2 linked regions of the Homo sapiens genome follow. The protein of the gene in region 2 interacts with the protein of the main gene of each other region in a pairwise test. Each region holds a gene or a part of one and is shown on either strand. Other genes may lie near its edges. The genes, in order: GKAP1 and SOX18.

Region 1 (3,811 bases), on a different chromosome or scaffold from region 2:
GACTAAGCATGCCTAACTCCATTGAAAAGTGTTTTGAAACTTTATCAACATCTGGCCCCTATACAAGCTAAGGCTTTAATCTTTGAAATAAAAAAGTTTTTAGGCATTGAGTAGTAGGTGAGTGGTCAGCCACTGAAAAGAGTCAAAGACCTAAAGATTACACATAACATACTACGGAAGGAAAATACCTATCTACCAGAAACCCAAGAGTCACAGTTGAGACTATATCTTAAATAGTGGGCATACAATAGATATTAAACGTTTCTTGAATGAATGAAAAGAAGTAACAAAACAAACACAAAGCAAACAGAAAGTATTATGACAAATACTGTTAATCAAGAAAAGAACCAATGACAAACACTCAAAAGACAAAATTATTTTTCTGGTAAAGCAGCTACCTGTGCTATGTCACATCAGCAACCTATGTGTTAACATGTCTGAAAGGGTACTTCTGTCAGAAGGTTACTTCTGAAAAGCTAAAATGGAAAGGGGGAAATGCCCCTTTAATGACCTCTTGTTTGATCAGGGTAAAGTGCAAAAAGAGTAAGACAGTGGCAGCCACTTCCCATTATATTAGACTTTACATAACAGTAAATATTAAAGACAAAAAATAGCACTACTTAATCTGCAGCTAAGGGGATAGGAGATGAAACAACTGGAAGAGTTCAATCATCTGTGCTATGCTATACTTAAAAAAAAAAATAGCCAACATATCAACACATCATCTACTGCAACAGCCTTGACAGAAATCTACATACTATGTCAAAAGGTACAACGACCAGTACTTCAGAAGTAGAAGAGAAGGAAATGTAATTTTAAATGAAAGAAGGGAATAAAACTTAACATGAAAATAATCCCCAATTTGTAAATATGTCTATTATTCATACACATACCAAAATGAAGAAAGAAATGCATGGGATTACTCACTATGCTTATTTTCCTTTCTATGGTTTTTACTATTTCCCCAAATATTCTACAATGACTATATAAATATATATATACACATATATATACACATACATACATACACACACACATGTATACATATATACGTATATATGTATACGTATATATACACATATATATACACATATATACGTATATATATACGTATACATATATATGTATATATACACACGTATATATATACACGTATATATATATATATTTTTTTTTAGACAGGGTCTTACTCACACACCAAGGCTGGAGCAGTGGTGTGATCACGGCTCACTGCAGCCTCAACTTCCTGGTCTCAGGTGATTCTCCCACCTCGGCCTCCAGAGTAGCTGGGACTACAGGCACGTGACACCATGCCTGGCTAATTTTTTGCAGAGACAGGGTTTTGCCATGTTGCCCAGGCTGGTCTTGAACCCCTAGGCTCAAGCAATCCTCCTACCTCAGCCTCCCAAAGTGCTGGGATTACAGGAATGAGCCACCATGCCCGGCTCTACAATGATATTAGTTCTAAAAAAAAAAAAGAAAAACAACCTCAAAAAGAAAAAATGGTTATCTATACTCAAGTTGAAAAAGTTAAGCATAATGTAATCAATACAATATTGATTTTTTTGCCCTGTGTCAAAATTTAGAAAGGGCAACTACAGGTCAGAATTGACAATGAGACGCCTTTGGCCATTCACATCAGTGACAGACAAGTCAAACGACAGAGAGCAACTATCGAAGACTAATATGTTGCATACTTTTAAGAGAACACTACCCTCGTTAACTAATTTTTCAGAATTTTCAAAAAGATAGTCATGTTATGCAATCCAGGAATTCCTCTGTAACTTTTTTTTTAATCTTGATAAGAAGAAACAAATAGGGAGACTAGGAAAACATTAGGCTTTTAAAAGATACTATATTTCAGGTCATGGCTAGGGTTAGTATTCCTTCAGTCTTGTGTCCTAAACTTCTGCATCTCCACATACAGTCACATCTAAGAGATGTTAGGATAAATAGATTCAAACACAGCTCTTCTCCCTCCCTCTCTATACTTTTTCTCCTTCAAATACACTTGGTCTTTAAAATTTAGATGCTTCTATGCTTAGACATTTATATACACATAATATAATTAAGCCATACAATGCAAATGAAAATACAATGGACTGCCAATTAAGTTACTTAAATTAGTCTATGAATATGGTGGCTAATACTGTATATTAAACATTTACATATTATTAAACTACTACACAAATCAGGTTTTTGGTGCAGAAATCTAATGATTATTTTATTTATATTTTTCCCCTCCTCCCTTTGAGTTCCTTTTAAAAATAATTTCAAGGATATCTGGGCTCAGTGGTGCACACCTGTAATTTCAGCAACTTGGGAGACTGAAGCAGGAGATCACTTAAGTCCAGGAGTTTGGGACCAGCCCAGGCAACATAGCAAAACCGTATCTCATAAAATAAATGATAAAACTAATTTCAAGGATAATGTATAGTTGAAGGAAGACAAAATAAATTCACACGATAATTTTAAAAACAGAAATGTTTCAGGGCAAAATGTGAAATAAACACACATTCTCAATATGCAGGCAGTTCACCATAAATAAATATATCTTCTACTATCTTCCATAATGTAATGACTACCACTAGTACAAACTATTAATTTATACTTAAGATGGCAGCAGGCCACACATGGTGGTTCACACCTGTAATCCTGGTACTTTGGAAGGGCTGAGGTGGGCAGATTGCTTGAGCCCAGGAGTTCAAGATCAGCTAGGGAAACATGGCAAAACCCCTTCTCTACAAAATGTACAACAGTTAGCAGGCATAGTGGTGCATGACTGTGGTCCCAGCTACTTGGGAGGCTAAGGTGGTAGGATCACCTGAGCCTGGGGGTCGAGGCTGTAGTGAGCAGTGATTGTGCCACTGCACTACACCTTGGGTTACAGCCTGAGACCCTTTGTCAAAGAAGAAAAAGAAAAAAAAAAGATGGCAGCAATGTCAAAAATATAACAAAGTCTTTATTTTACATATACTTCATACCCAAAAAGCCAATTATTTGACTTATTAAATGTAATAGCATGCGTTAGGGCTTTCTCTAGCAACCCTCTTTCTTCAGATTTTGCATGTACTCCAAGAAAAAACAACTTGAAATTTCTTGAACACACAATTAGTTTACTTGTTCATATCTTTAACTATGCTGTTCTCTTTTGTCTACAATGCCATCTATCTCTTCCACTGAAAACTTCCATTTATTCCTCAAAATCCTGCTCAGGTGCTAGCATATCTATGAAGCGTTCTCTGACCTGTTCCTGAAGTTAAACATTCCCTCCTCTGTAATATTTCCATACTTTAAACTTACTATTATTGAATGGACTCCAAAAAAATTCTCTTTATTGTTGTGCCTAGCCCCTATGATCCTGATTTCAAGATCCTGAAAGACAAGAGTTTCTATCCCTTACAAATACCACAGGATCTGGCACATAGAAGACACATTTATTGAACTTAGTGTTTTCTTCATGTTTACATTCTTCAAGTACACAGCTGTCTATGCAGTGAAAAATGTGCTCTACAAGTAGAAAAAGAAATATGTGAAGTGCACAATAGACAATCCTCAATTCCCATAACGCAGATGTGCATGAGCAATTATTAGCAGTTCAAAGTTGTTTCATTACGGTAAGTACTATTCTAACAAACTAATTGCCACAACCAATTTTGTCTAGGAAGCATATCTGGTTTTAAAGTGTTGATTTAAGCCAGCCGGGCATGGTGGCTCACGCCTGTAATCCCAGCACTTTGGGAGGCCAAGGCGGGTGGATCACAAGGTCAAGAGATCGAGACCATCCTGGCCAACGTAGTGAAACCCCATC
Region 2 (4,337 bases):
TCTACTAAAAATACAAATTAGCCACGTGTGGTGGTGGGCGCCTGTAGTCCTAGCTACTCAGGAGGCTGAGCAGAATGGTGTGAACCCAGCAGGTGGAGCTTGCTGTGAACCGAGATTGCTCCACTGCACTCCAGCCTGGGTGACACAGCGAGACTCCGTCTCAAAAAAAAAAAAGAGAGAGAAAGAAAAAGAAAGAGGGTGTCCAGTCCTCCTGGGGGCTAGTGAGATACGACTCCAGAGTTGGGGGGTCTTGGGATGTGAAGCCTGTGCTCTCCTGCCTTGGCCATCGGACCTGTCTCTGGGCAGAGCTGGACAGGTCACCCGGGTGGGGGGAGCGCTGTGGGTGTAGCATGGTGCTGTCCTCCCTGGGGTGAGTTAGAACAGCTGACGGAGACCCTGGAGTCTGTGTCTGCATGTGGGCTGCCAACCTGCCAGCCTCCCTCAGGAAAGGGGGCCGTACTGGGCAGTCCTTGGGCATGGAAGTTTTAAGGTGGAGGCAAGGGCGATGAAACCCTAGCGGGGGTGTGACAGGATTGCTGGTATAGTCTGACCTCCGATAGGCTTGAGTTAACCTGGGGGTGGGACAGGAGGGGAGTGGAGGGCTGGGGGGGAGTGTGGACCCATGCCTGCTACCCACGCTCTCTGGGATGTGTCACGGAAGGATGAAGGAGTGCTATGAGGTTCAAGCTAGGAGTCAGGCTCCCTGGGGGCGATTCGGAGGGAAGGGGCGTCCAGGGCTATTTGGGGAACTGCTTTTCCCTCCCTGCAAACACCACAGATGTCAGTGTGCAGAGGAAAGGCCCGAGGATTTATTGTGGCCTCTCCGTCCGGGGACCCAGCTCCAGGCTCCTCCTTTATAGAAAGCAAACATCTGTATTCCTCACATTGCAAAAGTCTTTGCCACAGTGACGCTTCTGATCACTGAAACTTCTTGGAAGAAAAGTTTAAGAGTTTAATTAAAAATTAAATATATTGTATTAGGTATATTTTTTAAAAGGGCAAAGTAAAAAATATTAATACAATCTGGTTGTAGAAAATACACTGCAAGAAAAGGAGCAGGTGCTTCAAAAATGTAACCCTGGCAACTCTGCCAACAGGTCCTGGGCTCGGGCTTCCTGGAAAAGCCCCGGGACACGTGGGAACTCCAGGCACCCTCGCAGGGGCCCCCCGAGGGCAGGTGGCCCAGAAGCCCAGGAAGGGTGGCCTGGGAGGTGGAACGGGCGCAAGGCCGAGCATCACTGGCTCCTAGGGGGCTGTGACATGGAACCAAACATACACGCGTATGAGAGAGCAGAGCGGCAGCGACGCGGTCGGATCGGTCGCGGGGGCTGCGGGAGGAAGCGCTGCAGGGACCCGGGCGGCGCCGGCGGCCTAGCCGGAGATGCACGCGCTGTAATAGACCGCGCTGCTGGCGTCCGACAGCGCGGAGATCAGGCTGCTCTCCTCTGGGCAGGACATGGCGCGCGGGCCCAGTTTGGCCAGTGCCACGTGGTACGGGAGCCCGGGGGCGTCGGGCCGAGTCCGGCTGCAGTTGAGGTACTGGTCGAACTCGGTGAGGTCCACGTCGGCCCACAGATCGGCGGCGGGCCCCAGCGGCTCGGCGCTCTCCAGCGGCGGGGCCTCGGGCGGCGGCGACAGCGGGCCGGGGTACGGGCCGGGCGTGCCCAGGGTGCCGTAGTACAGGCCAGCGAGCGGCGCCGCGGGGGGCGCGGTCCTGAGCGCCTCCGCCAGGGGAGCCCCGTAGCAACCGCCGGGGTCCCGCGACAACTCGGTGGGCGCGTAGGGCGCGCGGAAGGGCCGCAGCGCGCAGTCCTCGGGCGCCGCGGGCGGTGGGAAGAAGGCAGCCTCGCCGGGCTCCAGGCCGTCCAGAGGCGAGCGCTCGGGCGTGGGCAGCCCCAGGCCGTCGAACTCGGCGCCCAGCGGGGGCAGCTCGCGGAAGGCGCGAGCCGAGCCAGACGCCGCGGGGAAAGGCTCGGGCGGTGGCTGCGGGGGCGCTAATCCCGGGAGCAGGAGGCCGGGCTCCAGCCGCCGGGCCTTGCGCGCCTGCTTCTTGCGGCGCGGCCGGTACTTGTAGTTGGGGTGGTCGCGCAAGTGCTGCACGCGCAGCCGTTCGGCTTCCTCCACGAAGGGCCGCTTCTCCGCCGCGTTCAGCTCCTTCCACGCTTTGCCTGCGGGCCGTGGGCGCCAGTGAGTGGAACGCCGTCGGGCGGGTGGGCGCCGAGCCCTCCGTGCGCCCGGGACGCCCCGCGAGGGTTTGGCGCAGCCCCCGCACCCCGCGGCCCGGGACCCCTGCCCCCCCCGCCCCACCCCGGCCCGAGCCCCCCCCGCCCTCTCCCCCTTCTCTGCCGCCCTCCCGCCGCTCACCCAGCATCTTGCTGAGCACCGCGTTGTGCAGGTCCGGGTTCTGCTGAGCCAGCCGCTTGCGCTCGTCCTTTGCCCACACCATGAAGGCGTTCATGGGCCGCCGGATGCGCGACTCGTCTGCCGCCTGGCGTTCCCCGCGGCCGGCCGGGCTGAGGCCATAGCGCCCCGGCTCGGGGCTGCGCGGGGGACTGCGCTGCGGGCTGGGCGGCGAGGCGGGCGCGGCGGGCGCGGCGAGGGCGGCGGGGCCGGCGGCGAGGCCGCGCGTGTCAGCGGCGGCCCCGTGTCCCGGGGCCCATGCACAGTCGCGGCGGGCGGGCGGGTCGTCCTGTGCGCCGTAGCCGGGCGGCGATCTCTGCATTCCAGCTGGGCGCGGCCTGGGCGGAACGGAGCGCGGGAGCGCGGCGGGCGGGCGGCGGGCACTGGGGAGCCGGGCGCAAGGGCAGGCCAGGCCGGGAGGGCGGATGGCGGTGGGGACGGCGGTGGCCTCGGGCCGGGCGGGCGCCCAGATATAGCGGCTCAGGGCCAATCGGCGGCGGGGCGGGCGGGCGGGGGCGGGTCGGGGCCGCCTCCTCCCCGGGGGCTCCCTTTCTTCTCAGGCCGGGCGGGATTCCGCTGAGGCCTCCCCCGCGCACAGCCCCCCCACCTCCCCCGCGACCTCTCAGAAGGAGAGACCCCCCGGGTGGGAAAGAAAGGGCTGCTGATGAGGGCCGGTGCTGCCAGACTTTCGGAGGCGAGCTGCCACCCACCCACGGAGTCGGACCCCCGGGCAGTAACTGGGGGAGGGCGGCAGTGTCCCGCTGGTTGCCGTTCCCCGCCCCCCGCTGGGAGGCTCCATGGGGAGGAGAGGGCCCTTTTTCACACCAAGTTCTGGGGAGGCTGCCTTCCCAACAGCCGGTAAGTCCTTCCTGGAGTGCAGCGCCTTCAGAAAAGGCCCCGTCTTTGGGGAGGCGCTCTGAGTCCCCAGGGGCGCCCATGCTGGAAACTCTACACCCATGTGTAACCGTCAGCACCAGGGACTTTGAGTGCCTTTATGGGACAAGATGGTCTTCTGTCCTCACTCCCAAACCAACTCTGGCACAAGGCAAAGCTGACACAGGGAGGGAGAGAGCAGAGGCCCTGGACGGAGCCCACAAAGAGAAGGGGGAGCAGGGACGCAGAGGCTGTGGCGTCCTCCCTGCCCCCCAAGGGCCCTTGGGGAAGGGGCTGGGACCCTCAGTGGCTTGCTGGCTCCCCTGCCCAGCCCAGGCCACCGCTGCAGCAAGAGGCAGGGCCTACCTGGGTCCTTCCCACTGGCCCCTCCCTGGACCCTCTGACCTGGGCGGGGGCGGGTTCCGGAGGAGCGTCCAGCTTCCTGAATTTTCACTGTCCCCTTCCTACTCCATCAGGAGGGGATCTGGGCTCCAGAGCTGAGGGTCTCCCTCTGGAGGTCCTCCCCTCCCACTGCCACGCATGGTTCTACTGGAGAAGGGTTGGGTGTCCCCAGCAGCCCTCCAGGCAGGGTCAGAATCTCGCCACCTCGCGGCACATCTCCTCATAGCCTGGAGGCTCCCCAGCTCCCCCCGCCACACTATGCCGGGAGCCCCATGGGTAGAGGCCACAGGTCTTGTGACCCTGAGCCTGTGTGGCCAGAAGCTCTTGGTTCTCTGTCCCTGCCAGCCTCGCTAGGCCACATCCAGCCTGTGTTATGAATGGGGTGGGCCCCACGTGGGCCTTGCAGTGCCCCTTAGAGGCTGTTCCTGAACTGTCCCCAGGGGCACTCCTGCCCTGAGGCCAGCACCCCCACAGGGGCACTCCCACCGAGGGCTGTCGCGGTCGGTGTCCAGCCCTCCCCAAAGCCCCACATCACAGTCTGTCTCGACGCCCATCGTCCCAGCATACGGGGCTGGGTCTCCCAGTCTGGTCTCCAGATCTCCCGTCCCTCCAGTTTGCCCCACGGGCCTAGCACCTCGTTCACAGACACTGAGCCAGTGCTG

The links.
Region 1: the proteins of SOX18 (region 2) and GKAP1 interact in a two-hybrid assay, tested with the Homo sapiens proteins (one large-scale study listed by BioGRID and IntAct).

What each region holds. Positions count from the first base shown.
Region 1 is NC_000009.12:83,811,193-83,815,003, forward strand, and holds part of GKAP1 (G kinase-anchoring protein 1), read right to left. Parts: intron 1-3,811. UniProt on the Homo sapiens protein: Regulates insulin-dependent IRS1 tyrosine phosphorylation in adipocytes by modulating the availability of IRS1 to IR tyrosine kinase. Its association with IRS1 is required for insulin-induced translocation of SLC2A4 to the cell membrane.
Region 2 is NC_000020.11:64,046,795-64,051,131, forward strand, and holds SOX18 (transcription factor SOX-18), read right to left. Parts: upstream 2,846-4,337; 5' UTR 2,723-2,845; coding exon 2,365-2,722; intron 2,169-2,364; coding exon 1,372-2,168; 3' UTR 788-1,371; downstream 1-787.